Homo sapiens: one gene and its partners. The protein of the gene in region 3 interacts with the protein of the main gene of each other region in a pairwise test. Each region holds a gene or a part of one and is shown on either strand. Other genes may lie near its edges. The genes, in order: WDR25, HSPB7, PRDM14 and CARD10.

The links.
Region 1: the proteins of PRDM14 (region 3) and WDR25 interact in binary tests that used the Homo sapiens proteins (3 or more experiments, as listed by UniProt).
Region 2: the proteins of PRDM14 (region 3) and HSPB7 interact in binary tests that used the Homo sapiens proteins (3 or more experiments, as listed by UniProt).
Region 4: the proteins of PRDM14 (region 3) and CARD10 interact in binary tests that used the Homo sapiens proteins (3 or more experiments, as listed by UniProt).

The regions. Positions count from the first base shown.
Region 1 is NC_000014.9:100,379,465-100,386,487, reverse strand, and holds part of WDR25 (WD repeat-containing protein 25), read right to left. Parts: intron 5,579-7,023; 5' UTR 5,564-5,578; coding exon 4,742-5,563; intron 1-4,741.
Region 2 is NC_000001.11:16,015,044-16,022,534, forward strand, and holds the start of HSPB7 (heat shock protein beta-7), read right to left. Parts: upstream 3,001-7,491; 5' UTR 2,921-3,000; coding exon 2,722-2,920; intron 2,180-2,721; coding exon of another isoform or gene 2,165-2,179; coding exon 2,031-2,164; intron 717-2,030; coding exon 537-716; 3' UTR 1-536.
Region 3 is NC_000008.11:70,061,244-70,068,266, reverse strand, and holds part of PRDM14 (PR domain zinc finger protein 14), read left to right. Parts: coding exon 1-37; intron 38-1,761; coding exon 1,762-2,032; intron 2,033-7,023. UniProt on the Homo sapiens protein: Transcription factor that has both positive and negative roles on transcription. Required for the maintenance of embryonic stem cell identity and the reacquisition of pluripotency in somatic cells.
Region 4 is NC_000022.11:37,495,410-37,502,432, forward strand, and holds part of CARD10 (caspase recruitment domain-containing protein 10), read right to left. Parts: intron 1,770-7,023; coding exon 1,610-1,769; intron 1,152-1,609; coding exon 1,040-1,151; intron 595-1,039; coding exon 351-594; intron 178-350; coding exon 108-177; intron 1-107. UniProt on the Homo sapiens protein: Scaffold protein that plays an important role in mediating the activation of NF-kappa-B via BCL10 or EGFR.

The DNA of each region.
Region 1 (7,023 bases), on a different chromosome or scaffold from region 3:
GATGGAGCAAAGTATGAAACTTGAGACAGTTATAAAAATATATTTGGGGAAAAGTTTTTAATAAGGTAGAAAAATTCCCCTTACACGTTACAGAAGATTGGGCAGCAGAGGAAGAATTCAAAACTGCACATACTATGCAATAAGCCCAATTATGTAAACAGATAGGAATGTAGGGCCCCCGACCAGGGAGGCCCCTCATGTTAATGAGGCACTGACTTGGGGTTGGGAGTTATCAATGATTTCTGTTTCTCCTTCATACTTCATATTTCCTGCATCATTAAAGTTTTTCACAATAAGCATCTATTACATTCATGGTCAAAAATTAAAAGGTTTTTTTTCAAAGTATTTTAAGGAAGCTTGTTACTGAAAGAATTTCTAGAGCAAATTATTCTGTAAAGCAAATAAACAACATCTAATTCATATATTTTCTTTAAAAACCTTCTGTGTTTCAGAACTGCAGGTTTTCATACAGGTACAGAAGGTCCCTGGTGGGTCTTCTGTCACCCACCCAAAGGTCTTATTCCTTTGGGACTCCCTCTCAGTGCCTGGCAGAGGGTTCTGTACATGGGAGCATTCAATAACGGCTGGTTGTGTTTTTGGTTAACGCAGGCCACGTACATGTTTTCCTTCAAAAAAAGGCATCAAAGTCTGAATTTCTACCTTTACGTGCAGTGGGTGTTCAAACACGTTAAGCCAAAAGAGTTCACTGGGAGATGAAAAGAGTATATAAAAGGGTATCCGTGCTGGGATCACAGCTATGAAAAAAACAAGCACGTTCACAGACAAGGGGAGGAAGGGATCGTCAGGAAAGAGCAGCGGTGCAGAATTATGAGTCATTGTTTTATTTTACTTAATTTCTCTAGCTGTAAATTTTTCAAAACTAATAAAAGCATATTTTACAGCTCACAGAACATTTAGAACATATTAAAATAAGTATCTTTCCACTGTAATGTGTCCAGTTGAAATGTATGAATTCCGAAGCTACGTTTTAAGGATATGAAGGAACTGGCACTCCATGTTCTTTAGATTAATAAGTTGGACTGTGTTGTTTTTCTCCTGATCAGAAAGAAATCATTTTTCAGTAAATGTTACCTTGAATCAAGGATTCTTCCACATTCTAGAAGCTTGGATGAGCTGCTTATATTAAGTCTTACTGTGCACCCTAGTGGCGAATATGATTTATCCACTCAAAAGACAATCCCTTCCCAAAGGCTTGCGATAAAATCCAAAAAATTTGTTTTAATTTTTATCGATCACTTAACATGTACACAATTTTGTGCCAGATGCTGGGGAATATAAAAATGGGTTCTGGCTCAGGAAGCTTAAAGTCTAGTAGGTGAAGCTGATATGCTTCCATGGCTACTTACGTAAAATAAGACATGAGCACAAGTCAAGGAAAGGAGGAAATTCTTGGGGAAAAGCAGGAACTCGAGCACACACTAAGTGCCTGCTATGTGCCAGGCATTGCACTTGGTGATTCACAACTAATATCGTTTACTTTTCACAAAAACCCAGCGAGGCATGTTTAATTCTCTCCACTTTATAGATACTCAAATGAAGGCTCAGAAGTGAGGTAACTTGCCAGAGACCACGCAACCAAGGGGCTGGCCGTAGAGGAAGGACCCAAGCAGGTCTTGTCACCCAGCCCCCAAGCTCTTCCCTCCTTCCTGATCCAGCAGGGGCCCAGAAGACACTGGCAGATTTTAACCAAAAGGCAGGGGGAAAGCACCCTGGGAAGGGTGTACTGCTGCACCCGCCTCTTTGAGCTCATTCCATGCTGCACCCACCATTTCCTCTCCTCCAGGGACTGGGCTGCAGCCAGCCAGGACTCCTGCCTGTGCCCGAGGCCCTATCCCCACTCCAGACCCACCACCCACACCCACACACTGCCTTCCCCAGATCACCAGGTCCCCAAGATCTGCCATGCTGCCCCACCTCTGACACCAAGGAGGGAAAAGAACACCATGTGCCTCCCAGCCAGGCCACGCACAAACCTGGTGGCCCAGCAAGCCTGAGGCCTCAGCCGGGACTTCTGGCCACAGCTCCTGCCTGGCTCCCCGCCGGTTCCCAATCTGTCTTCCCATCCTGGCTCCTCCAGCCCCTGCCATACACTCTTCACACTGAAAAGTTGTTCAAAGTCAATTTGCCCAAAACCAATTTGCCAAATAACCCCATCACTGAAAACTGACAAATATCTTAAAACAGAGAGGGCCCTGGCCCACCATTTGTATCTATGGCTTATAAAAGCCCTAATGTTCACGACACCACAGTAAAAAAAGAGGGTCAGGAGATGCCAACCCTAGCAGCCATGCTGACCCTGGCCCAACCTCATGACAGCAAATGTGCTCTGCCCTGGGAAGGAACCCAGGGTGCACAGTGCAGTGGGTGGGGCTCCCCAGAAGCTGCCTGGCAGCCCAAGGGGCCCATGCCAGTGTCATCACCTGCAGCACACACAGTCTCCTCGGGACAGGCGGGCACAGCTGCGGCGCCTGGCCCCACCCAGGGCAGCCCCACAGACCCGGACCCAGGTCTCTGAATCGCCCAGGAGCAGGGCATTCCTACCACAGTCCCTCAGTCTGAGCCACCCTCACTGCCATTCCAAGCTGGGCCCACTGCGCCCTCTTCTGGTCATGAGGTGTCACAGTTAGTTGGCTGCTCACAGTTTCCCCTCCATGGGGGCAGAAACGTCTCTCCCCCCACGTCCCCAGTGGCACCGTGCCTGGCACATTTGTCTACTCCACAAGGCCAGAAATCAATGCCTCTACTCAGGTGCTCTCTGCTCAAAAACTACCATGGGGATGCTTCTGTTTAGGAAATCTAAATTTCCCAGGCAAAAGTGACCCAAGCTGCCACTCTGCCAGCAGGGCCCAGGGAGCACTTCACGCCACCAGGCGAAGGCCAGTCCCACAGGGCCCCAGGTCTGCCCCTCACCATCAGGAGAGAGAACTCCAGAGGTGAGCGGGCAGGTAAAAGAAGGCCTCAACAGGAAGGTGAGCACAGGGAGGACAAGGGCCACCACTTGAACTCCAGGGCCAGTCAGACACTGCCCAGGCCCACCAGCAACCCTCCAGATGGGCTTCCCATCCTCCAGCCCTTGCAGCGCAGACTTGGGAAGGAGAGCAGAGAAGCCCCGGGGCCACAGGATCAATCCCAGCATGCTGTGATCCACGCCAGGGATGCCAGAAGCCTCCGCGCACACTTCACAGCCCCCGGAATGGCAGGAAAAGCACCAAAGACCTAAGTGGAAAATCCTGGAACTCCAGGCTGAAGAGAGAATATGACGTTCTCTCCCACAGGACTCTGAGTCTTGCTAGAAAAGAGCACAGACAAGCCACTTCAGGACTCCAGTTCGCCACTTAAAAATGCCACCCATCAATTCAGCTCATTTCAAAGACATCTCTATACTTGGAGCTTCCTTTCTTCACTTAAGAAAATGTTTCCGAGGGAGAAAAGCTCAAAATGTAATTTGCAAGAGAAAAGATGTAGGAAAGTTGGTTCCAGAACTCTGAGGAAACAAGGGCAAGGGAACCACCATTTACTGAGCGCCTATGAGGTACCTGGCTCTGTGCAAGGCACTTTTTCAGCATTTTTCTCACATGAGCACATGACCCAGGTATGATTTTGCCCTTTTACAAATGAGACACTAGACTCCACAGGAAGGCAGCCGGCCAGTGGTCGACCAGCTAGCTACTCTGCAGCAAAGCTGGATGTGAAGCCAGGTCCCTTGAAGTTATTTCCTTTCCAAGAGCTTTCTGTTCAGCTAGCATTTAGTTGGCACCCGCTACATATCAGGTGCTTTGCTAGCTGCGAGGAGAGAGAGGAGGGATGCAGTGCACAGCTCGAAGGGCTGGAGACAGGTCCCAGGTGGGCACAACGACCTATCACACTGTACCTCCATACTGGGGGACTACATTACTATCACTTCAGTAGCCTGTAAAATAAATAAGACAATGCAAAAAAGAGTTTCCATGTAAAACCAGAAGTCCCCAGAAGGGCACGTGCAACCTTCCCTGACCTTGCTTCCCCAGCCTCAAGTCCCTCACCCACACATGCTTGAAGCCAGCTCCCAGGCCCTCATGCTTGGAGCCAACACATACACAGGGCTCCTGCAGCCAAGCACGCCCTTCTGCCCCCATCCCCAAGCGAACCTTCCCCTTCCTCAGGAGGCCTTCACTGAGCCCTGCCGGGCTGGGCTGGTAACCCTCCCGTTGGGCTCCCAGAGCACCTGTGTGTCCTACTGGGGGCCGTCCTCACAGCTCAGGGTTGAGTCTGTGTACTTGTCCACGGCTCCCGCCTCACTGTGCAAGCCCTGACACCAGGGGCTGGGTCTACCTACCTCTCCCAACAGCCCTTGAAACCAGCACAGCACCAGGCACAGAGCTGGCATGGCTCAATGCTCCACAGGGTCACCGAGGATGTCCCCAGTCCCCAGGGCTTGGTCCTGGGCCTGCTTTTCTTCTCCCACTAATCACTCTCACCTCCTCCCTCACGGCCTCCGAGAGGGATAAGAAACAGTATCCTCTGGTAACCTGAGCAAGGCAGCATCAGGGAAGGGTTGGGGCAGAAGGAACCCACAACCCGGAGCTGACCACAGATGACCCTTTCTGGAATGCAACAAAGGGAATTACAGAAATCTGCACACAAAAAAAAGTTCAGCCTGTAACCTCCCTCCACTTCACTATTATTCCAGCAGTGTATTCCTAAGAGCATCTGAAAGCAGAAGTTTTCATTCAAGTCTTACCTTGAAAGTTTTATCCATAGAAGTGGAGAGAAGCATGTGGCTCTTAGAAAGGACTGGACACCACTGAATGGTGTTGACAGGGCCCCTGTGGCCTCTCAGGTGGAAAAGCACTTTCCGGGGAACTGTGGTTTCTTTATAATGGCTATTCAAATATGGCTGAATAAACTCAGACACTCCCGGGCCCACGTAGAGAGGGGCTGGGGCACGCCCTGCAGGGGGCCCCTGTGGCTCCACGTCTTTACCCTTGCCTGTCTCCGTGCTTAATGCCTGCCGCTGTCTTAGTCTTCTGGGAGTATAGGGTACCACACAGTCCTCACATTTTTTCTTCTGAAAAGAGCTGCCATTTTTACCTACGGTTTCAGACTCACTTTGAGCATGGAAAGATGACTTGGGAAAGTTCCTGGAGAGTTTTACTTGCTTAAAGCGGGCAGCTGCCAGGGGCATGTGGCTGGCTGGAACATGGCTCGTCCACAGAGAAGAACAAGAAGGCTCTTTGATGGGGAAGGTGACTTGAGGCTCCTTCCCGGGCCACTGTAGCCTCTGGCTGGGGCAAGATCCCCAATCGCTTCTCCCAAGCTGAGCCAATGGAAGGCGATAGCCCCCTGGGTCTTCACAGGAGCCATGCTTTGTGGGCTGTGCCCCTGCTTTGGGCACATCCAGTGTACCAGATGCAAAATCCTGCCCAGGTGGTCTGGCCACACCAGAAGTGTCTTTCTGCTGGCCGGTAGCATTAAAACTTCCTGCATGCTCTGTCTCAGCCTCCGAGTCCGAATCATCATACGCTACCAATGAAGCCATTAAAGACAGAGTTCTTGCTGTCATTCAAAGCCAAACCACCTAAGATCAAACAAGGTCAACCGTCAGAAAATGTGCATGGAAGAATATGTATGTAGTTATAAGAAACCATGTCACCTAGGAAATCCAATAACTCAACACTCATAAGAATAAACACAGGCCAGGCGTGGTGGCTCACGCCTGTAATCCCAGCACTTCAGGAGGCCGAGGTGGGTGGATAACCTGAGATCAGGAGTTCGAGACCAGCCTGGCCAACATGGTGAAACCCCGTCTCTACTAAAAATACAAAAAGTAGCGAGGCAGGGTGGCAGGCACCTGTAGTCCCAGCTACTCGGGAGGCTGAGGCAGGAGATCGCTTGAACCTGGGAGGCGGAGGTTGCAGTGAGCAGAAATTGTGCCACTGCACTCCAGCCTGGTCAACAAGAGCGAGACTCTGACTCAAAAAAAAAAAAGAAAGAAAAAGAATAAATACAAAAACAAAAAAGGCTTTTCTACATATCAGGCCCAATTAGTTAGAAGATAAAATTTTTGAAATTGAAACTATGGAATAGCTGGGGGTAAATCTGTAAAAAATAAGCAAGACCTACATGAAGACTTATAGTAAGTCTGGGTGCAGTGGTTCACACCTGTAATCCCAGCATTCTGGGAGGCTGAGGTGGGCGGATCACTTGAGGTGAGGAGTTCGAGACCAGCCTGGCCAACATAGTGACACCCCATCTCAAGTAAAAATACAAAAATTAGCCAGGCCTGGTGGCACACAACTGTAATCCCAGCTACTTGGGAGGCTGAGGCAGGAGAATCTCTTGAACCCAGGAGGTGGAGGTTGCAATGACCTGAGATTGCACCACTGCACTCCAGCCTGGGTGCCAGAGGGAGACTCCATCTCAAAAAGAGAAAAGAAAAGAAAAAAGCGCTGGGTGCAGTGGTTCATGCCTGTAATCCCAGCACTTTGGGAGGCCAAGGCGGGGGGAATCACAAGGTCAGGAGCTCAAGAGCAGCCTGGCCAACATAGTGAAACCCCATCTCTACTAAAAATACAAAAATTAGCCAGGCGTGGTGGCACGCACCTGTAGTCCCAGCTACTCGGGAGGCTGAAGCAGGAGAATCACTTGAACCCAGGAGGCGGAAGTTGCAGTGAACCGAGATTGTGCCACTGCACTCCAGACTGGGTGACAGAGTGAGACTCTGTCTCAAAAAAGTAAAATTAAAAAAAAAAAAGGAAAGAAAACTAAAACTTTTATTGAAGGACATAAAAGAAGACCTAGGCTGGGCGTGATGGCTCACACCTGAAATCCCAGCACTTTGGGAGGCCAAGGTTGGTGGATCACCTGAGGTCAGGAGTTCAAGACTAGTCTGACCAATATGGCAAAGCCCCGTCTCTACTAAAAATACAAAAATTAGCCGGACATGGTGGCAGGCGCCTGTAGTCCCAGCTACTTGAGAGGCTGAGACAGAAGAATTGCTTGAACCCGGGAGGTGGAGGTTGC
Region 2 (7,491 bases), on a different chromosome or scaffold from region 3:
CTGGTAGAGGGGAAGTTTACCGTCACGGCTGTCTCCTCTTGGCCTTGCTGAGCCCTCGGGCAATTAGTTCCACTTAGATAGGCACCCTTGCCTGTGACCTTCCCTCTGTCCCTCCCACTCCCCTTGGCCAAGAGGGTTCCAGGTCCCTGGTCCCCTTGCCCTGCAGAGACTTCATAGATCAGAGGGTTTGTCTGTCTGTCTGTCCTGCAGAGCTTGCCCATATGTCCTGCTGGTCCCATTCCCCTGACCCACAGTGGGTTCTTTAGATCTTCCTTCCCTGACCCCAGCCCCTGTACTCTGGATTAAGTGACGGAGGCCAAATCTGAAATCTGGGCATCATGTGTCAGGCCAGGGAGTCCCTGGCCTGCCCTGGATAGAGTGGAGGGCCCTAGTTTGGGAGGATGGTCCACCTGGGGTCTGGGGTGCGTGGGGGCTAGAACCTGGGCTGAGATGTCCTGGAGCTGTTGTAATGGGGTTAGCGAGGCTTTGCTGGCAGGCGTGGGGCGGGGGGACAGGGAAAGGGAAGGGAGAGGCACTCAGATTTTGATCTCCGTCCGGAAGGTCTGCTGGACGTGTTCTGTATGCGGGTGACGCCGTGCCCGGATAGTGAGGCTGCCGTCCTCCCGCAGAGCCGAGGTCACCGACGTCGGGTCCACGTCCTCCGGCAGCTGGCACTTGTGAGCGAAGGTGTTCATGACAGTGCCGTCAGCCGCCAGCTGGGGAAGGGGTGACCCGTCAGGCAGGCTGCCCCGACCCCTGTCCTGCTTGTGACAAGCCAGAGCCCTCTTCTCCCCATTCTAACCCCAGCCAGACCCCACATGCCGAGGGGCTCTGCCCTCAGGTGCCGAGGGGCTGCCCAGGGTGGTGATGGCCACAGGCCAAAGGCTCTGCAGGGACAGCGCAGGGGTGCTTCGCAGAGCTCCAGTAGCTCCAAGGAACAGGCCAGGGACATGGGGAAGAGGTGGGGCTTGGAGAGAGAGGAGGCTCCGTGGCAGTGGCTCCGAATCTGGGGCTCCTGGGGAACGTGGAGGTGACAGAGGAGAGCCGTGCCTTCCTGGATCCCCGGGCACATTGGGCATCTGCCCGCCAGGGCTGAGCGCCGGCCCCTCCCCCGCAACTCAGCCAGCACATAGTGTCCAGGGGAGTTTGGGGCGGCTGAGTCACTGTTGGGGGTGGCAGGGCTGGCACATGCTGCCTGTGGGTTTTGGTGCCCCCAGTCCATGGCATCCCTGGCAGGGACGCCCAGAAATCCACCCTTGAATGTGGAGGGGAAGAAGCCAGTCCTTGGGGGCTTAGGAGGAGGCTTGGGTCAGGTCCTCTCCTCTCTCCTGGCAGCCGTGGCTGTCCCTGGGCAACGCCCCTGTTCAGGCCTGGCCATACCCTCTCCAGGGTGGAGGCCCCAGTGCCTCCTAGAAGTTCGGACTCAGACACGCTAGAGACCCAGTGACCCTGAGACCTGTGGGCGGGCGCTGTGTGTGGTTTGGAGTGTGTGTGACCCGAAACTGCAGGGCCCCTGCCCAGCCTCGGGCCTAATTTAGGGGTCCCAAGATGGGGGATGGGTCTCCAGCTGTGGGAGGGAAGAGGGCTTGAGGTGGGTCACATGGAGAAACCCCTCCCCCCACTGCCCAGGTGAGTTCCCCACCTACCCGCATCCGCCCCCCTATAGCTACCAGAGGAGCTGTCCTCACTCTGCCATCACCATCTCACACCTGTCATCTCCCACCCTCAAGCCCCACCCCCTCAGGCTCCCTCTGCCCACATCCCTCCATCCCTCTCCCATTCCTCGGAGGCTCCCTCAGCTGCTCAGGCCCTGGAAGAAAGGATCTGGGAACCTCGGTGCAAAGAGAGGCAGTGAGGGGGCCCCATGGCCATGGGTTGCAGGGACAAGGCCTTCAGTTAGCCCTGGGGGAGTTTGGGTGGGGAAGGGACACTGGCCAGGGTCTGGGGTCCCAGGATGGTAAGGGGGAGTAGGAGACATTGGAGGCAGGAGCAGAATTTGGGATGCGGTGAGTAGGGGGTGGGGGGCTCACCTTCTCAGCCCGCACCTCGATGTGGTTGTTGGAGGTGGTGACAATGATGTCTTCAGGTGAGAAGTCTCTCACGTCCACCGCAAACTCATAGGCGTCTCCTAGGGTCTTGATGTTGCCTGCCCCACCGGGGCGGGCTGTGGGATGGGCTGCTGTGAGCGAGGCATGGAGCAGGCCTTGCATGCAGATCCGGGGGTTCTGGCTCCTTCTCTTGGGGCAAGGGGCGGCTCCCCCAGGCCCTACCTCCCCCCTAGCTGTTTCTCCCTAAGCTCCTCCTCATTCCTACAGCCCACCTTTTCTGGGGTGGGGGTGGGGCCTCACCCAGCACAGTGTGTGTGTATATGAGGCTAGGTCTGTAACAACCCCACCCCAGGCCTGGAGCCTGGGGGCTGCCCCCCACCGCTCACCCATCCAGCCCTCCAGGGCTCCAGCTGGGATTGGCTGTGGTTACAGAGCATGGGTGGCCATGGAACCATGTCCAACCCCCAGGGCCACAACTGTTCCTTAGAGGCCCACCTGTTTTCATGGCCACATCTGTCCCTGTGGCCACATCTGTCTTGGTGGCCACACATGGCTGCAGGCTGTGCAGCACCTGTTCCAGGCCGACCGGCAGCCACAGCGCCTTCGGTGGCGCCCTGGAGCAGACGTCCCCTCCCTGTGCACCTCCCCTCCCCTCAGGGCCCGGATCACTTGCCTGGGAAGGCCAGGGGCTCCGAGTGGGGCCGCATGAAGCTGCCAAAGTCATCGGAAAACATGCTCAGGGCCTTCTCCATGGGCGGGTCCTGGGCCGGGAGAGCACGGGAGGCCGAGGAGGAGGTGGAAGAGGAGGAGGAAGAGGAAGAGGAATGGAAACTTCTCTCCGCTCGGAAGGTGGAAGAGGTTCTGTGGCTCATCCACGGACGGCGCCGGGCCCTGCCCAGGCGGGCGAGGGCTGGACAGGAGAGGGTGTGGGCGCAGGCCTCTGGGCGAGCGTGCCAGGCTCCGACTGCGGCCGCTTTATAAGGCCGACTGTCCCTGGGCTTGGGGCCAGCCCCTTGTCTACTAGCTAAATTTAGGCCTCTCCATGGCCCAGAGGGGGCTGGAAATCTTCTCCCGTGCGCCGGCCCTGCTGACAGCCCGACACGCAGGCCGAGAGGGCTGAGCTCACAGCCTGACATTCCAGGCTGATCACAGCAGCCCCAGGGGCCTCCTCACCACTGCACAGGGCTGGATCCTGTCTCCTTGCCACTCGGACCTCGGTGCCTGCCCCAGAACCTTGCAAGTTTGGGGTTTATTGTGTGTTTTGTTTCCCCCGTCAGCCTGGGGGCTCCTGAGGACTGTGCCTCCCCTCCAGACTCTGGTTCTCCTCCACGGCTGTACCTCCTCCATCAGTGTGCAGGCTCCTTGGGGACAGGGTAGGTGGAAGCACCACCGCTCTGTGACGTCAGGAGCTCCTTCCCTCAAGGCAGACAACCTTCACAGCCCATCTCTAAGGAAAGGTTGAGCCCTGCCAGGGGGTGTAAAATGTGCAGCTGTCCCCTGCCAGCCCCCATGGGGACCTGGATTCTGTGCCTGCACTCCCTCTGACTCTCAGAACATTCAGCAGCCCCAAGAGGACAAAGTTGGCAGCTTTCTCCTTAAAGGTCTAGAAGGTTGTGTTCCCGGCAACTGTCTGCTCCATCTCTGTGTCAGAGGTGATGCCTGCGAGCGCCTTAGGTGGGATTTCAGTCAGAGGTAAAAGAGAATTCCGGAAGACAATTATTCTAGCCCTGAGTTCTAGAATGCCTTCTGGGCATGGGCTCCTGGCTGCAAGCTGTCCAGCACGGCCCCGTTTGATCCCCACACAGCTGGGAGGGTGGAGGGGCTCTTCCCATGTTACGGACGGGGAAGCGAAGCCTCTTGGAAAGGGCGGGGCTCGCAGTTGCGTAAGTGGCAGAGCTGGGATTCGAACCTAGATGTGTTGGACCCAAAGCCCTTCAGAGGCCGAGGTGGTTTGAACATGTGCCTATGGAGACAGGCTGGCCCGGAAGAGCCAGAGAAGCCCCTCCCTACCCACCTGCTTGCTCAGCAAAGCTGGGACTGACCTTGCCCTGGGCCAGGGTGGAGGCCATTCTGAGAGGCGGCCAGGCCCTCTGCTCTGCCCAGGTTGCAGTTAAGGGCCTCTGCTGTCCTCTCCAAATCCGTCCCTTCCGTCCCAGATCAGCTCCAATGCCTCCTCCCCCAGGGAGGCCTCTCTGACTGCTCCTGCTCACATGGGCCCACACCCAGTCCAGATGCCCCCAGCACTGACTGTCTTTGTCCTCCCACAGCACCTGGCAGTGTGACATAGTCTTCCTGTGTGCTGTGACTCTCTGCTGTGTCCCTTCTTCCCTATCCAACTGGCAGTTCCCACGGGGGCGAGGGTTCACCTGTCTCCCCATTAGATTGAAGGTTCTTGAAGACGGGCAGTTTCTCTTTTGTCTGAGCCCCCTACAACCCAGTCTGGAGCTTCATCCTGGAGAGCTCCTTCTACAGGGGTATTAGCGGTGCTGGTGGTATGTGGAGTGGAAGCAGAGCAGGGCACAGGGCACAGCGGCGGGCCAGGCTGTTGCCTGGAGCAACAGGGCCTGTTGCCTCTGGCAGAGTTTCCTGCCCGTGTCGGGGCCTGTGACACCCAGCCTGGCTGAGGGGTTTCTAGGGCAGCTGGGAAGCCACCAGCACTGAGGTGAGATGGAGAGAGGGTGGGGCGGGGTGGGGGGCCCAGAGCCTGCCGCTCGCCAGGGAAACAGGAGCCGGTGGCTAAATGCAGACACACTGTCATGGTGCTGAGGGCCTGAGTCACTGCCCCTGGATGTCAGATCCCGTTACCCACCCCCGCCCACCATTCCTCCTCCCCTTTTTCCCCCTTCCCGAGGCATCACCCACACAAATACTGGATCCTCTGGCTTCACTGACCCAGAGGGACCTCAAAAGGTCATCAAGGACATTCCCCTGCCTCTACCTTCAGATCACAGAGACAGAAGGAGCTACAAAGATGATGCAGTCCTTTGAATCCCAGTCACCCAGGAGAGCTTTTCACAAACACAGACCCTTTCCTTGGACCCCAGGATTTTGATTTGGGATCTGGGGAAGGGACCTCACATCTCTTCCCATCAGCTCCCCACACAGCCAGCTCATAGGCCAGTGATGAAGCCCTCATCACTCAGTAGGTATTCATTGAAACCTTGCTATAAATAGGTGCTGGGCACTGTTCTAGGCTCTGAAGGACTCAGAGATGAATAAGGCAGAGACAGGCCCCTGCTTCCAGGCTCACCTCATCATACAGAAGAGGAAACTGAGGCTCTAGTTGATGAAAGAGTTAGGGTCAGCAGAGCTGTGCTGGCTTCAAACCGGTCATCCTGCTGAGCCACCCTGGCTGCCCTCTTCTCAGCCTCCTGGTGCACACAGGGCTGGGGGGTGAGGGTAGATGTGGACGTGCAGTGCTGGCTGTGGGACAGTAGCCAGCAGCTGCCCCAGACCAGACACTGGAAATCGGGATGTTGACAGGGCAGCCAGTTCTGGTGCTGTGCAGAGTCAACAGGTCGGGGTGGCCAAGGTGAAGGTGGGCTCGAGTCCATACAGAGCGGCAACTCCCATCCCACCTCCCACAACACACATCTTTGATTTTGATTTGACTTGCCTGGCATCTAGGGGCAAAGGGTGGCCCAGGGTCCCAGATTTTAACAATCATCCAAGGGCTATCATAAGCTTCAGAGGGTGGCTTTGTCTGGGTGGGAGTGGAGGCAATTGTCCCCAACCTCTTGCCCAAAAGTGGCATCAGACACAACTCTTCTGTTCTGTGCCCAAACCATTGCCCTGGTTCAGCCTCAGGAGCTGGAGGAGCTTTGGGCAGGGGAAGAGCTGCACAGTGTGGGGCTGGGTTCAGCCTCTGCTGTGTGACCTTGGATGAGTGACTCACCTCTCTGACCATCTACAAAATGGCGAGGCTCTCCCCATTCACAGGGTGTGGGAAGGAGGACTTGAGCTGCAGATGTGACGCTCCTGACACGTCGCAGGCACACGGCAGGTGCTTGTTCCTCGCCATGTCCCCTCACACCTGTGCTGCCATCCTCTGTTGGGGTGGGACAAACTCTGTGGAATTACCCAGAAGTCCCCACCAGAGCCGCTGGCCCTTGGACGTGTGCTTTGAGAAGCATTTCCTGAGCCTGGAGGGTCTGGACACAGGATCAAGTCCGAGTTCCTGACCCCAATTCACTGCCTTGCCCCAGGTGTCGGCCTCCTCGCCAGCCCTGGACAAGATGGGTCATCAGGATGGGACCGTGTGGCACAGCCTGCGGGCTTTGGAGCCAGGCAAACCTGGGCTGGGAATCCTGGCTCTGCCTCGGCCTCCGTGATCTTAGACAGGCAGCCCCAGCTCCCTGAGACACCATTTCTCTACAACGGGATCACGCTGCCTGCCTCGTGGGATTTCCGTGGGCACTCAGGGTAATTAATCTGGGAGAAGGCTGACTCTCTACCTGACACACAGGGAGGCTGTGGTCATGCTGGCCCCACTCACCATTGCCCCCCTGCCTTCTCCTTCCCTTCCCAGCCTCCTCCCCTCTCCCTCTGTGCTTTTTCAAACCTTCCATGTCCAGCTCTGAGACCCCTGGACCCTGAGTCTCAGCCTTGGCAGATGACCCCTCTCTGTCCTGCTGTGTGCATGAGCTCCCCCTTCCCAGCCCTCGTCCAGCAGCACCCAGGAGCCTGAGTACAGCTGGGCACCACCCTCTGTGCAGCTGTGATGGGTGGGGAGGCTCCTGCTCCCCTTCTCTCTTGGCAGTTCTGCCCTGCACAGCTCTGGCCTCCACAGTTCTGGTTGGTTTGTCAAGGACGTTTTTAATCTCCATGGTAAACCCCGGCCGGCGGGGAAGGGGGGTGGCAGGGAGAGAGTGATGATTGGTAGAGCATATACCTGTCCAGGTGCACTGGAGCTGGGAGCAAAGGAGGCTCTGTGAGAGGAGGGCCAGTTCAGCCGCAGCAGGAGGACTGACAGGTGAGGGGTCTCTGGGCGTGGACTGGAGTATGAACCTGGAAGGGCCAGGCAGGCAGGGCATAGGGGATGGTAGGGGCAGTAGCCAGCACCTCACTTTGGCTTTGCAGAGGCCTTCTGGTCCTGGGGTTTTCCTGCCTCTGTGACCTGAGCTGTCGGGGAGAAAGGAGGGTGCTCCGAGATTGGCAGGGAGAGTCGGAGCCATCCATGGGACTCTGCAGTGAGAGAGTCACAGCCCTGGGCAGAGACTGCTCCCAGTAGTGGAAGCACCAAGCGACCCAGGAGGGTGGGAGCGGTGTCCACAGTCTGCTGCTGGACACAGGGGGACACCTAGGAATCCCACCCTCATCCCACAAAATGACACACACAGGCACACACCCTCAGTGACGGAACCTCAGGGATGAGGGCACACACAGACCTAGTGTGATAACACACACACACACGCACAATCCTTCCTCTTCATTTGGGTGGGGA
Region 3 (7,023 bases):
AGTGAAGACCTACGGAGACAATTCTGTGATGTGGGAGGTAAATCTGTTTCTGGTGGGTCTGCTGCTGAAAATGGGGCGGGAGACTAGTCCGGGGAAATCTTGGCCTTTGCCCTTTTGGGAGAGTCCTGGTCAGAGAGAGAGGACATCCAGGGCAGATATCTGTGGTTTGTGTTGCCTGTAAAAGGAAGGAACGGCCAGTGTTTGCTCCATGAGGATAGCACCTCTGCATGAATTCTGTGTTTTGTGGGTGCCTTAAGTCATTTTAGTCTGGAAGATTAGCAATGGAATATACATTTAAAGAATCAATATGTTGTATTATATTTATAGACAAAACTAAATGCTTTAGATATTATAGAGTGCTGAAACTATGCTAAAGAGAATAAAAACAAGTTTTAAAATTCAATATTATTCACCTATAAAATTAGTCAAGGATTAAAAAAAAAATAACCAGATACTCTTCAAGATCTAGTGATGATATATTAGGGATATGCTAGTGGGACTGCAGTTTATTACCTGCAGGAGAAAATTTGTCAGAATGTATCAGATACCTTAAAATGTTCAAAGTCCCTTGACCCTGAATTTCTACTTCTAGGAATATAGTACAGGAAAATAATCTGAAATTGAGGCTATGTGGAATATGTTAATCCTAGGGTTGTTTATAATAACAAAATGTTGGAGACAGCGAAATTGCCAGCAGCAGAGAAAGAAGTAATCTTTCTTTGTTTTTTTTTTTTTGTTTTTTTTTTCTTGAGACGGAGTTTTTGTCTGTTACCCAGGTTGGAGTGCAGTGGCGTGATCTCAGCTCACTGTGACCTCCACCTCCTGGGTTCAAGCAATTCTCTTGCCTCAGTCTTCCGAGTAGCTAGGATTACAGGCATGTGCCACCATGCCCGGCTAATTTTTGTATTTTTAGTAGAGAGGGGTTTCACCATGTTGGCCAGGCTGGTCTCGAACTCCTGACCTCATGATCCGCCTGCTTTGGCCTCCCAAAGTGCGGGGATTACAGGTGTGAGCCACCAGGCCCGGCCTTGAAAGAAATAATCTATAGCTCCATTAATATGCATGAAACCTAACTGGGAGTAAAATATAAAACTATTCAGTTGTGTTTAAGTGGTGGAATTAAATAAAACCTTTTTGTTTCACTTACCTCTGCTTATGAAATTAACATGTGCTCACTATAGGAATTTGGGAAGCAAGAAAGTGATAAAAGTAAGAATCTTTTAGAATATGTCACATTAGGCAGGCTCAGTGGCTTACACCTGTAATTCTAGCACTTTAGGAGGCCAAGGTGGGAGGATCACTTGAACCCAGGAGTTTGAGGCCAGCCTAGGAAAGAGTGAGGCCCTGTCTCTACAAAAAATTTTTTTAAAAAAATTTGCCAGGCGTGATGGTGCATGCCTTTAGTTCCAGCTACTCAGGGGGCTAAGGTGGGAGGATCATTTGAGCCCAGGAATTCGAGGCTACTGTGACCTGTGATTGAGCCACTGCACTCCAGTCTGGGCAACAGAGTGAGACTCTGTCTCTGAAAAAAACAAACAAACCCAATATGTGACATTACCTAGAGAGGTGTCCTTAAACTAACAAATCTATGTTGGCATAAGTAAATTTATAAACTACTTGTAATGACATAAAAATCAGAATGATAGAAGTGTATTTGGTGGACTCAAGTGTGATATTTAGGTTACAAGTATTAAAAAATTTATTTTATAGATTAGACCAAAAAAGAAGTACAATACAAACTTCATGTCTTATTTCATTTAGATCTTTGAAGATGGTCATTTGAGCCACTTTATAGATGGAAAAGGAGGTACGGGGAACTGGATGTCCTATGTCAACTGTGCCCGCTTCCCCAAGGAGCAGAACCTAGTTGCTGTGCAGTGTCAAGGGCATATATTTTATGAGAGCTGCAAAGAGATCCATCAGAACCAAGAGCTCCTTGTGTGGTATGGAGACTGCTATGAGAAATTTCTGGATATTCCTGTGAGCCTTCAGGTCACAGAGCCGGGGAAGCAGCCATCTGGGCCCTCTGAAGGTGAGTGCACACCCTCGCCTTGCCCAATGAGGGCATCCCAGTAGAAGGACTGGGCTCTTTTCCACAAACCCTCCATGCACAGCTCCTCCCTCCTAAAGGCTAATGCAGAGGACTAACCGAGAGTGTCTCTAACCAGGGGGGAATTACCCAGGTGAAGGAAAGCATCCTCAATTTCCCAAAGCTGCGGAAGCTACTCCTATTTATAAAGATATATACTCCTATTTATAAAGACTTGTTCTTCTTCCCTACCTTCCACCCCAAGAGTAAAAGAAAACGTACTAAATGGATGTAACTTCTACCATAGGTGAGCCAGTTTCTGATTCATCTCTGCCCAGGCTAATGTAGCTGAAGTCTAATCACTAGAGCAGTGTTTTTCAAATGGTGGGTTGCAGAGTTGCATGTCTTAGTGGGGTGGGAAATCAATTTAGTGGTCAAGACCCACATTAAAAAAAAAAAAAAGTATAGAGTAGAATAGAAAATATTGATGGGAATCCCTTAAGAGTAAGGATTGTTTTGTGAAATTTCTATTTCACATGGGTATATGTGGGTATGGTGGGTGTCAAGCATAAAATACATTGCCTACTATGGGTCTCAGGCAAGTTTGAGAAATACTGAGCTGGACTCTCACTCTCAAACTTTAATGTGGGAATGAATACCCAGGGATCTTCATGATGCTGGTTCTCATTCAGGGTAGGGGCCCAGGATTTGGTATTTTTATCAACTTGCAGGGAGTGCTGCTGGTCCTGGTCCCTGGTCCACATTCCAGTAGCAAGGGGCGAGGGAACCACCAGCCCACTCTAGGGGTGAGACTTTGGAATTTGCATGTTAAATAAGCTCTCCAAGTGATTTCTATATACACTGAAGTTTAGGAACTACTAATCTAGTAGGTGGGACAAGATAAATGTAAATTCCTGTAAATAAGAGAGAAGGCAGGCCGGATACTGTGGCTCACACCTGTAATCTCAGCACTTTTGGAGGCGGAGATGGGCGGATCACTTGAGGTCAGGACTTCAAGACTAGCCTGGCCAACATGGTAAAACCTCATCTCAGGTCGGGCACAGTGGCTCACGCCTCTAATCCCAGCACTTTGGGATGCCGAAATGGGCAGATCACCAGGTCAGGAGATCAAGACCATCCTGGCTAACGTGGTGAAAACCCGTCTCTACTAAAAATACAAAAAATTAGCGGGGCGTAGTGGCACACACCTGTAGTTCCAGCTACTCAGGAGGCTGAGGCAGGAGAATCATTTGAACCCAGGAGACAGAGGTTGCAATATGCCAAGACCGCACCACTGCACTCCAGCCTGGGCAACAGAGTAAGACTCCGTCTCCAAAAAAAAAAAAAGAGAGAGAGAGAAGGCAAATTATTATGATGTAATAAATGTGTAAGGAGCAGGTTTAAAAAAAAAATGGCCCAGGCGTGGTGGCCCACGCCTGTAATCCCAGCACTTTGGGAGGTGAGGCGGGCGGATCACGAGGTCAGGAGATCATAGCCATCCTGGCTAACACGGTGAAACCTCTTCTCTACTAAAAATACAAAAAAATTAGCCGGGCGTGGTGGCGGGCCCCTGTAGTCCCAGCTACTTGGGAGGCTGAGGCAGGAGAATGGCGTGAACCCAGCAGGGGGAGCTTGCAGTGAGCTGAGATTGCGCCACTGCACACCAGCCTGGGCGACAGAGCGAGATTCCGTTTCAAAAAAAAAAAAAAAAAAAGTAAATTGCATCTGCATGCCTGTTTTCCTGCTAGGCTGAGATGCTTCAGGGCAGGAAATAACCCTAAACACTTTAGTATCTCGTGCTTCTGGATCCCAGTGCGTACTGACTGAGAGGAAGACATTAGAACTAAGCTAGAAAAAGCTGCTTAGGGATGAGATGAAATAAGGCACGTGTAAGAGGGAGAGAGGGAAGGCAATCAGGCTCAGGGAACAGTGAAGCAGAAGGCAAGGAAATGTCCAGAAATTAGGGGGTAAATAATAAGCAGTCATTATTTATCTAATGATAAATAATGAGCAGTCAGCCGTCATTATTTATCTAATGATAAATAATGGTCCCAATGATGAGGGGCTGTCAGGATTGTTTTGGTGAACTATCTTCCTACTCCCCCAGGTATCTTATGTCCATGCTGGGTTCCCCCCGCCACTGAACCATCATAAGCCCTCATTCTGTTGCTTGTTCTGATCGCCTCTGATATCTGCATACAGGTTGAGTATCCTTTTTCTGAAATGCCTGGGACCAGAAGTGTTTTGGTGGGTGGTGTGGGTGTGGGAATGTAGGTGAAGATAGGAATGGAGGCAAAAATGGTTGGGATTCTCTATGATCTGTGGAGCTCTAAGTTGTCTCCTACTTAGCACCAAACCAAGACCTGTTGGTCACTTCCTGAAATGTACCAACTCCTTTCGAAATAAAAGTCAACAGGCTGGGCGTGGTGGCTCACACCTGTAACCCCAACACTTTGGGAGGCCAAGGTGGTTGGGTCACCTGAGGTCAGGAGTTCACGACCAGCCTGGCCAACATGGTGAAACTCCGTCTCTACTAAAATACAAAAAATTAGCTGGGTGTGGTGGTGCATGCCTGTAATCCCAGCTACTCAGGAGGCTGAGACAGGAGAATCGCTTGAACCCAGGAGCAGAGGTTGCAGTGAGCTGAGATGGCGCCACTGCACTCCAGCCTGGGTGACAGAGTGAGACTCCATCTCAAAAAGAAAAATGAAAGAAAGAAAAGTGAACAATGGATTTGAGAAAAGTATCTGCTTAGTAACTGGCAAGATGGTTATTATCCTTTTGAGAAATCATTATTATTTTTTGAGATAGGGTCTCACTCTGTCACCCAGACTGGAGTACAGTAGTGTAATCTAGGCTCACTGCAACCTCTGCCTCCAGGGTTCAGGCATTTCTCCTGCCTCAGCCTCCCGAGTAGCTGGGATTACAGGCATGCACCACCACACCCAGCTAATTTTTGTATTTTTAGTAGAGATGGGGTTTCGCCATTTTGGCCAGGCTGGTCTTGAACTCCTGGACTCAAGTGATCCACCCACCTTGGCCTCCCTAAATTCTGGGATAACAGGCATGAGACACCATGGCCGGCCATTTTTGAGAAATTTTTTCACCGTATGTATCAAATTATTACAATGTTTGTAACTTTGATGTCTCAGTAATACTCTTCTGGAAATCTATTATCGAGAAATAGTCCAAAAGGAAAAAGCTATGCTTATGAAAATTTTTAACTGTGGCACCACTCTTGTGAGTGAAAAATCACAAACAACCTAAATGTTCAGTAGTATAATAATTAAGTAAATGATGATACAGGCTCAGCAGCTCCAATCAAGAAATCCCAAATCCAAAATGCTCTAAAATCTGAAACTGAGCACTGACATATTGCCAAAAGTGGGAATTTCCACACACCAGTACTTGACACAAACTTTGTTTCATGCACAAAATTATTTAAAATATTGTGTAAAATTACCTTCAGGTGGGCCAGGCACGGTGGCTCATGCCTGTAATCCCAGCGCTTTGGGAGGCCGAGGCAGGCAGATCACCTGAGATCAGGAGTTTGAGAACAGCATGACAAACATGGTGGAACCCCGTCTCTACTAAAAATACAAACAAATTAGCTGGGCATGGTGGCAGATGCCTGTAATCTCAGCTACTCAGGAGGCTGGAGCCGGATAATCGCTTGAAACCGGGGGCGGAGGTTGCAGACCGAGCAAGATTCCGTCTCAAAAAAAAAAAAATTACCTTCAGGCTATGTGTATAAAGTATGTATAAAACAAAACATAAATGGACTTTATATTTAGACTTTGGTTCCATCCCCAAGATACCTCATTATGTATATGAAATATTCCAAAGTTCGAAAAAAACCTGAAATCCAAAACACTTCTGGTCCCAAGCATTTCAGAAAAAGGATACTCAACCTATTTGTTATTAACATGGAATAGTATGCCGATATCAGAGGCAATCAGAGCAAGCAACAGAATGAGGGCTTATGATGGTTAAGTGCAGGGGATACCCAGCATGCAGATAAGATACTTGTGTTCCAGTTCTGAACCAAGTGATACCTGATGCTTACAGCATTATTATGAGGACATATATTTTGGACAATGGAGGGAAACTTGTAAACAACTTAATTTGTTGGGAATAATTATAAATGAATGTTAATTTGTTAATCTGTTAATATGAATGGTTTGGATGTGATAAAAAGGAAAGAAAAATTAAAATTCCATTGCATTCTCAAATGAGTTTTTTTCCCCAAAGGCTTTTTGGTGGGGATTGGTGGTAGGTGGGAGCCTTCCTCTTTAAGGTCTTGAGTGGTGAGGGAAGGGTCTAGACTCTATGTGGGCGGGTTATTTGAATATGCAAGCATTCCCCTCTTGTGAGGGAGAGAGGGAATTTGGGTGTGTGTTTTGGGGTGTGGAGGTGTGAAGAGCTAGGGGGAGGGAGGATAGGGAACAAGATAAAATTAGGAAGGATAGGGAACAAGATGAAATTAGGTTTCATTTCTACCTAAGTGGTTGTTCTTAAGCGAACTCAGTATTGAAACTTTATTCTGAATTTTGGTGTGCTTTAGTGCTTAGGTTTGTAAAATTGCTGACCCTCTCTTCCCTTCCCACCCCAGGAAGCAGGAAGGCCAGGTATTTCTGACCAATAAAAATTCTACCTCTGTGCCAAAAAAGTGTCCCAGCACGGGGATTCTGAGAGTATTAGCACCTCAATGAAAGTGATAGACAGAGCAGGGCGATGGATCAGCTTGGGGCTGGCAGTTGCCTTCCTGGTTATTTACTTAATGAATAGTTTATTTCCTTAGCCACCTGTTAAACGTGCCTGGGATGTAGTTGTCAACTAACAAAGCCCCTGATGGACAGCTTCCCTGCTGTCCTGATGCTGAGAAGATTTCTATCTGCAGACTCTTGCATAGACTCACTCTTGGCTGCTCTTCCTCCCTGGGGTCAAACAATGAGATCTCTGTGGTGCATTCATAGTCAAAGCCACTTTATCCT
Region 4 (7,023 bases), on a different chromosome or scaffold from region 3:
GGAGGGAGGGAGTGTCTTCCTAGGTTGCCAGAGAACAGAGCCTGCTAGCTCCCTTTTGGACCCCACCCTTGGGGCCCCCCACCCACTACCTGCCCAGCCGTGCTCACATTACTGCGGGGGCCTCGGTGCCGGCTGGAGGGCAGGCATTTCTCCTGAACTTCTAGGAGCTGCTGGGCTCTGTGGGAGGGAGTGACATCATGTGTGTAGAAAGAAGGAAAGCTCCTCATTTCTCCTCGAACCCCCCGCCCTGTCCCAGAGGATGGTGAGGGAATGCAGGTGGAGGGAGAGCACCCCCATCTGAGCCCTGGCTCCCAGGGGGACCCCATCCCCAGCTCCTGGCTCTGCGTCACCTCTGATAATTGGGCACGGTGCCCCGGTCCAGGTCCCGCAGAGTGAGGGGGTCAACCCGGGTGCAGAACCATTCCTGCCTCCGCTTGTATGCCGAGTCCACCAGTCGAAGGATCTCTTGGGCTTTCACGCAAAGGGCATGGGGATCTGCCCTCTCAGGCAAGGTGAGGTTGGCACGAATGTAGAAGGGCTCGGCACCTGGTCCCTTTGCCCAGGCTTCTAGGGCCTCGTGGAAGGACTGGCAGGCTGGGCATGGATGGGGCAGGGGGCAGCAAGGAGGACAAGAGGAGGATGGTGAGGTCCAGGATCGGCCTTGGTGGGGCCAAAGACATGGCCCTCTCGAGGCCTGAGTTCCCAGGACCCGACCTTCACCTTCTTAGAATGACTTAGGTCCAGAGGGGGCAGGGACTTGCCCAAGGCCAGTGCCTTCTAGAAACAGAGCCAGGACTCAAACCCAGGTCTCTGGACTCCTAATGTAGTGCTCCTTTCACTGTAAGCTGCTTACAGAGGGAGGCATAGAGAAAGGGCACAAGGACAGACAGAAGGAGGCATCAGCAGGCGGGGAGCCAGGAGAAGGGCAATTGGGGCAAGGCTGGTCCCTTCTCAGGTCCTTGGTCCCTCCCCACCCCATGCACCACGGGTTAGAGGACCCCTCTGGGGCCAACAGCTCCGACTCCCAAGCCAGACTTACCCTTCGAGTCCATCAGGGAGGGGAGTGTGGACCCCTGATTCCAGAGCAAGGTTCTCTGCTGGGCCTCGGCTTCCAGGCACGCCCCCTCCAGACCAGCAGCTTCCACCCTTTGCTGGGAGAAAACCCAGGCAGGGAGGGAAAGAAGTGAGCCTCTGAGAGTAGAGCAGCCCAGGGGCTGGAGGAAGACCAGGTGTGGGGGTGTTTCATGCCTCACAGTTCAGATAGCGCCCCCTCAGAAACTGCCATGCCCAGCCCAGTCAGACCCGTCCCCATCCACAGGACGCCCCCATCCACAGGACTCCCCAACCCGCCCAGCTCATCCAGGTCTTTCTCGACTTGAAGCGCAGGAATGTAACGTGCTGTCAGTTGGCTCCACCTCCCAGTCCCTGCCCAATCAGACTTCAATTAAGCCTGGCTGAGCAGGCAACCACAGCTAATCACTGAGCCCGCTTCGGCTTTGACCAATCCCCAGAAGCTCTGCCCGGTGATCTTGATCCACCAAATTAAGGGATGTCCAGCCTGGGCAAAAGCACTGACCCTACCCCCCCAGCTCAGGAGGCAGGGCCTCACCTCTCTTGGTTCCATCCTGGCGGACCCAGGCCCAGACAGCACCCTGCGCACCACAGCCCCAGACCATCTGTCCCCATAAAACGACAGTCCATCTGGTCCCTTGTCCTGCGGCTCTGGGCCCCCTGGGGGGCTCCGGCCAGACACCCGAATAGCCAGAGACCTGAGAAGGGAGAAAGGAGATGAGAATTGGAGTCCAATCAGTACTTGGATTCAGTTCAGCATTCTTGGAAAACCACAGTGATTTCATTTCCCAAGTATGCCATGACTCCCACCCCCAGGCCTCTCCATCTTCTGTGCCCTCTTCCTTGCCTTCTCCACCTGGGAAATGCTGATCATCCTTCAAATCTCAAGTCACAAGCAGCCTCTCCCCTGGACCTGGGCACACGGTGCAGTGGAGCCTGCGTGCCACAGAGCACTCCAACTTTGCCTTGCCACGGCCCTTTCGTTTCCTCCATCAGAACGAACACCTTCAGGACCAAACTTCTATACTGTTCCGCTCTGTAGCCCTGGCACCAAACCCAGTGTCTGGCACATAGCAGATGACTAATAAAAGCTTGTTATATAGCCAAGCACGGTGGCTCACGCCTGTAATCCCAGCACTTTGGGAGGCCGAGGCAGGCGGATCATGAGGTCAGGAGTTCGAGACCAGCCTGGCCAACATAGTGAAACCCCATCTCTACTAAAAATACAAAAAAATTAGCCGGGCGTGGTGGTGGGCGCCTGTAATTCCAGCTACTTGGGAGGAGAATTGCTTGAACCCAGGAGGCAGAGGTTGCAGTGAGCCGAGATCGAGCCACTGCACTCCAGCCTGGGCAACAAGACTGAAACTCTGTCTCAAAAAAAAAAAAAAAAGCTTGTTATGCTCACAGTCTGAGGAGGGAGGTCACCATTAGCACGTGGCACAGATCCAAAGGTGGTTACAACCAGCCGTGGAAGCAGAGAGAGGCTTCCCACGGAAGAAGTACCTAGGCTACACGCTGGTGAAGAATAGATGCACTTTGGTGACAGATGGAGGAAACAGAGTTCCAGGCTGAAGGAATATATCAGAGCAAAGGTGTGGAGGACAGAACACAGGATGCGTGGAAGAATTTAATAATAACAATAGCAGCGAACACTTCCTGGGTGCTTTCCATGTGCCAGACACCATGCTGAGCTCCTTGCCCTAATTCTTATTTTACATCCTGGGAAGCAGCTCCCAGGAAAGGCAAGCTGGAGCCACCCTTTGGAGGGCGTGGAACAGAGGCGTCTGGTTTTCCTCCCATGGGCAGGAGGACCACTGACAATTAAGACGTCACCAAAATCCCCATCATGGTAGGGTTCTGCCTGTCCCTGGATGAGAAAAGGTGAGGCCTTGTGGCCAGGCTCAGAGACAAATGGACCCCAAGTCCCCTGCCAGACACCTTGGCCTGGAGGAGGTGGGGAGACCAAGGTCAGCAGGTGTGCTGGCTGGAGAGGCAGCGGGGCGAAGCATCTCCATCCACCCCAGCAGCTGCAGCCCAGACACAGCTGCACTGCCCCCTGCTGCCAGCCTGGGGAGGGCGCGGCTGCAAGGACCTCCCACCCAATCGGCACTGCTGGGGAACAGCCCCGCCCTCTCAGGTAAGACACAGAGCCAGGCCGAGGGGCTGGACAGATGCAGGCATGGGAGGCATCATTCAGTGCCGCATGTCCTGGCTGCATCGAGGTGGCATGGAAAGGGGGCAGGCCTGAGACCTGGCCTGGCTATGCTGGCCCTGGCTTTGTGGCTGGAGCACACGGTCCGCTCCAAACCCCAGGGCAAACTGCACCCTAGCCTGGGCAAATGAGCCGGCTGCTGAGCGTCAGTTACCACATGCATAACACGAAGCTGACAATGACACCCCTTGCCCTCTGTGGGTGCTGGGGGGTGGGGGGGGGGGGCACATGAATAAAAGATAATGCAGGGAGAGGTGGAAACCAGAGGACTCTGGGGCCTCCAAACTGCAGGCCTGGCCCTTAGTGGCTGGTAACATTCACTGGGTTGCGACTGGGACAGCTGGATAATGCTATGGAATAGAAAGTACAATGCTATCCCCCACCCCGCTCCCGCCACCCCAGGTAAATCCAATTATTATCTCATGACCTTTTTGTTCCAGGCATGTGTACCGGGTTTCTCTCACTGTGGGTTGTGGTCAGATGGTCCGAGAAGCACAGCACGCAGGGTGCCAGCAGGAACTCTGGGGTCAAACGGCCCAGCTGCTCAGCCGCTTGAGCCTCAGCTCCACCCACCTCCCTGGCTACTCGCTGAGTTTAGACATGGGCAGCTCTCAGAACAGGGCCCAGGAGACACTAAGTGCTCTGTCAAAACTAGACATTTACTGGCATCAGGTGTGATTCACAACAAATCACCTCTCGCTTGCCTCAGTTTCCCCACCTGTTTCAAACCCACAGACAACTGACCATCATGGCCTCTCCAGACCAGAGCCCAGTAAGCAGCTGGCATCCAGGCTCTTCCACCAACCCTACCCACCCCACCCACCTCTACTCGCTCCCTCCTCCACACCTCTCCCCTCTGCAATGCAAGCATCAAGGCTGACCTCAGCTTTCAACTCAGGTTTTTCAGGCTCTTCTTGACAACTCCTGCAGCTCCCTGAAGACCCAGCTCAGGCGCCCCCTCCTCCAGGACGCCCTTGCCAACCTCCTCAAAGGACCAGTGACTTCTCTGAGCCTCCACAGACCAGGAATACCTGCTCCCAGCACTCCTCGGAGTCTGCAGAGCCCACAGGGGCTTGCCCAGAGCAGGGTCCAGATAGGGTTCCTCCCAGCCCCCCGCCTCAGCAGACAAGCAGGAGGGGTAGAGAAAGGACACAGCAGGGAGAGGGGCTGCCTGCTCCCCGCTCCTGGGACTGGCTGACCAGCTGGCTGCCTGTGTGGTACTAGGAAGCACAGTGTCCTTAGCTACCAGCTCCCAGCCCCCTCCCCAGTCAGGTCAGGTCACAGGCAGACAGGAACGGGGCAAGTCTGCCAGCTCTGCCAGCTCTGAGCAGTGACAGGCCACATGGCCTCAATGAATGTCCCCCAGGGCCCCGTGGGAAGATATCTGAGTAGTCTGCGTGCCTGCTTGGTACCAGGTCAGGGACCTGATGCTGAGACTGAAGCATGCCACACAGATCACCTCAGTCAATCCTCCTGACAACCCGATGGTTGAGATAAGGGAAACTGAGGCACAGGAAAGTTAACTTGCCAAGAATGGGCACAGCTAGTGGGCCGTGGAGCCAGGCAATGACTTATGGGAACCCTCTCTTTGCAAGGACAGAAGGTGCCAGAGATCCCCTGGGGCCACGTGAGCGAGCTGGGCAGTGGTGAGGCTATGCTGGGGAGACGGCACCCCGAAACCCTCCAGTGCTCTCCATGCTCTGCCTCTCTCACCCAGCACCTCACTTGCCCCATGAGTTCTCCCTTGCTGTCCCCCACCTGACTATCTGTCAGCCCAACCCCCGGTCTGCCCCAGCCCCCCACTATCCACCATCCCCTCCCGGCACCCAGGCTCCAGGAGCTGAGAAGGGCAGGGCAGAGAGGCTGAGGGCAAGAGATGGGCAGGAAATGGGAAAGAGGAGAGAAAATGCCCAACATGGTGCCCAGTACAAAGTGGGCACACAATACGGATGTGAGATCTCCAACAGCTGAGACAGTGGGGAGGCACATCGGAATCTCCAACCAGCTCCGAGGGGCCTGTGACTTGGGACCAATTTCTAACTGTCTCTGTACTTCAGTGTCCTGGTCTGTGTAACGAGGTTAAAATTCCAGCCTTGCAGAGCTGCTCTGAGGATTAAACAACAATGGCGACAATAATCATAACTAACCGCGAGCATATGCTGACATCCACCGTGAGTGTGCTAAGCATTCTAGAAGGGATACTCAAACCCCCATAGTGACCCTAAGGGACAGGCACTATGTGAGCCCATTTTACAGAGCAGGAAACTGAGGCACTGGGAAATTCAGAGACATGCCCAAGGTCCCACAGTAGCAAGTGCTGACACCAAAGCCAGCTCTTCCCACCTCGCCATAACACAATCCCAGGAGACACACAAGTTGCCCCGACCTGGGACCTGTCCGGGCCCTCATCTCCCTCTCCCTCTCCTCTCCGCCTGTCTGCCTCTCTCTCTCTCTTTCTCTCTCTCTCTCTGTCCACCACCTCTGCACCTTCCCCAGCCTGTGTTCTTCCCCAGGAACCTCTCTCCTCCCCAGGAACAGCATGGGCAGCAGAAGTGGCCCCATGTGATCGTGGGGCCTGGGCGGGGCTGGGACGGAGGCTCCTGCTCCCTGGCTGCATCCTGGCGCCCCCTGGACAACAGCCAGGACCCCTGCTGCAGCCCAAACTGGAGGAAGGGAGGAAGGGCCGAGGCGAGCAGGAAGGGAGGCGCCTCCACCCCTTCCCCGAGAAGCACGTCCTGCACAGGCAAAAACAATGTCTCGCTGAGCCCACTGCCGGGGGCCAGGTGGGGGCAGGGCCTGGACACTGGCTGACCAAGCCGCTCCGGAGGCCAGAGGCCCTGGTCCTATGCTGTACCCATCTGCTGCGTGACCCATCCCTCTGCACCCAACACCTCCACATTCCAGCGCTGACAGTCCATGTTTCCTATGCCCTTTCCAAAACCCAAATCTGATCAGGTCACTATGAACCCAGACCTGGTACTTCCCAACTGTGGGACCCTGGGCAAGTTGCTTAACCTCTCTGAGCCCCAGTTACCTCCTCTATGGAGCAGAGATAATCGTCATTATGCCTACTCCCTGGACAAAGAGCATGTTGTAAAACAGCCAGCAGCTGGCCTTGCAGTTAATAACTAAACCCTCCCACATTTCCCAGAGTGTACAAGCCAAAGTCCACACTTTCCCAGCCTGACTCAGGAAGCCTTGACTTTCGCCCTTCCCCCTCGCTCCTCCTCCACAGTCACCGGATGCTCTCCCTACCTGCCCTCTCCTCACAGCTGAGTTCCAAGACCACAATGGCCGTGCAGCCCCCGCTCTGCCCCACCCCTCCCTTAGATACACTGGCAGGTGTGAACAGCGGCCACGCACCGGCCACACTAACAGCACGTCGCCTACAGTGCACTCTGCACTAATGGGCTTTGTGACTCCTGTTATGGACCTGTGGCTGGCCCGGTCACAGGGGCTCCTGAGGTGACCCAAGCCCACCCACAGCATGAAACTTTGCTGGGTGGCTCAGTCCCAGGGACTCAGAGCCAAGGGACTGACAGGCAGGACATTGGGACGAGGACAGCTTGTAAGTGACAACTATTACTAAGCACCTGCTACATGCCTGGCAGAGCTGGGTGCTTTGCTTCTGCGAGCAGAGCCCTCAAAAGACCTCCATGCAAAAAGGGTCATCATCTCCCTTTAGCTACTGAGGAAATGGAGGCCCAGAGAAGTGAAGGGACCAGCCCAAGTCACAGGGA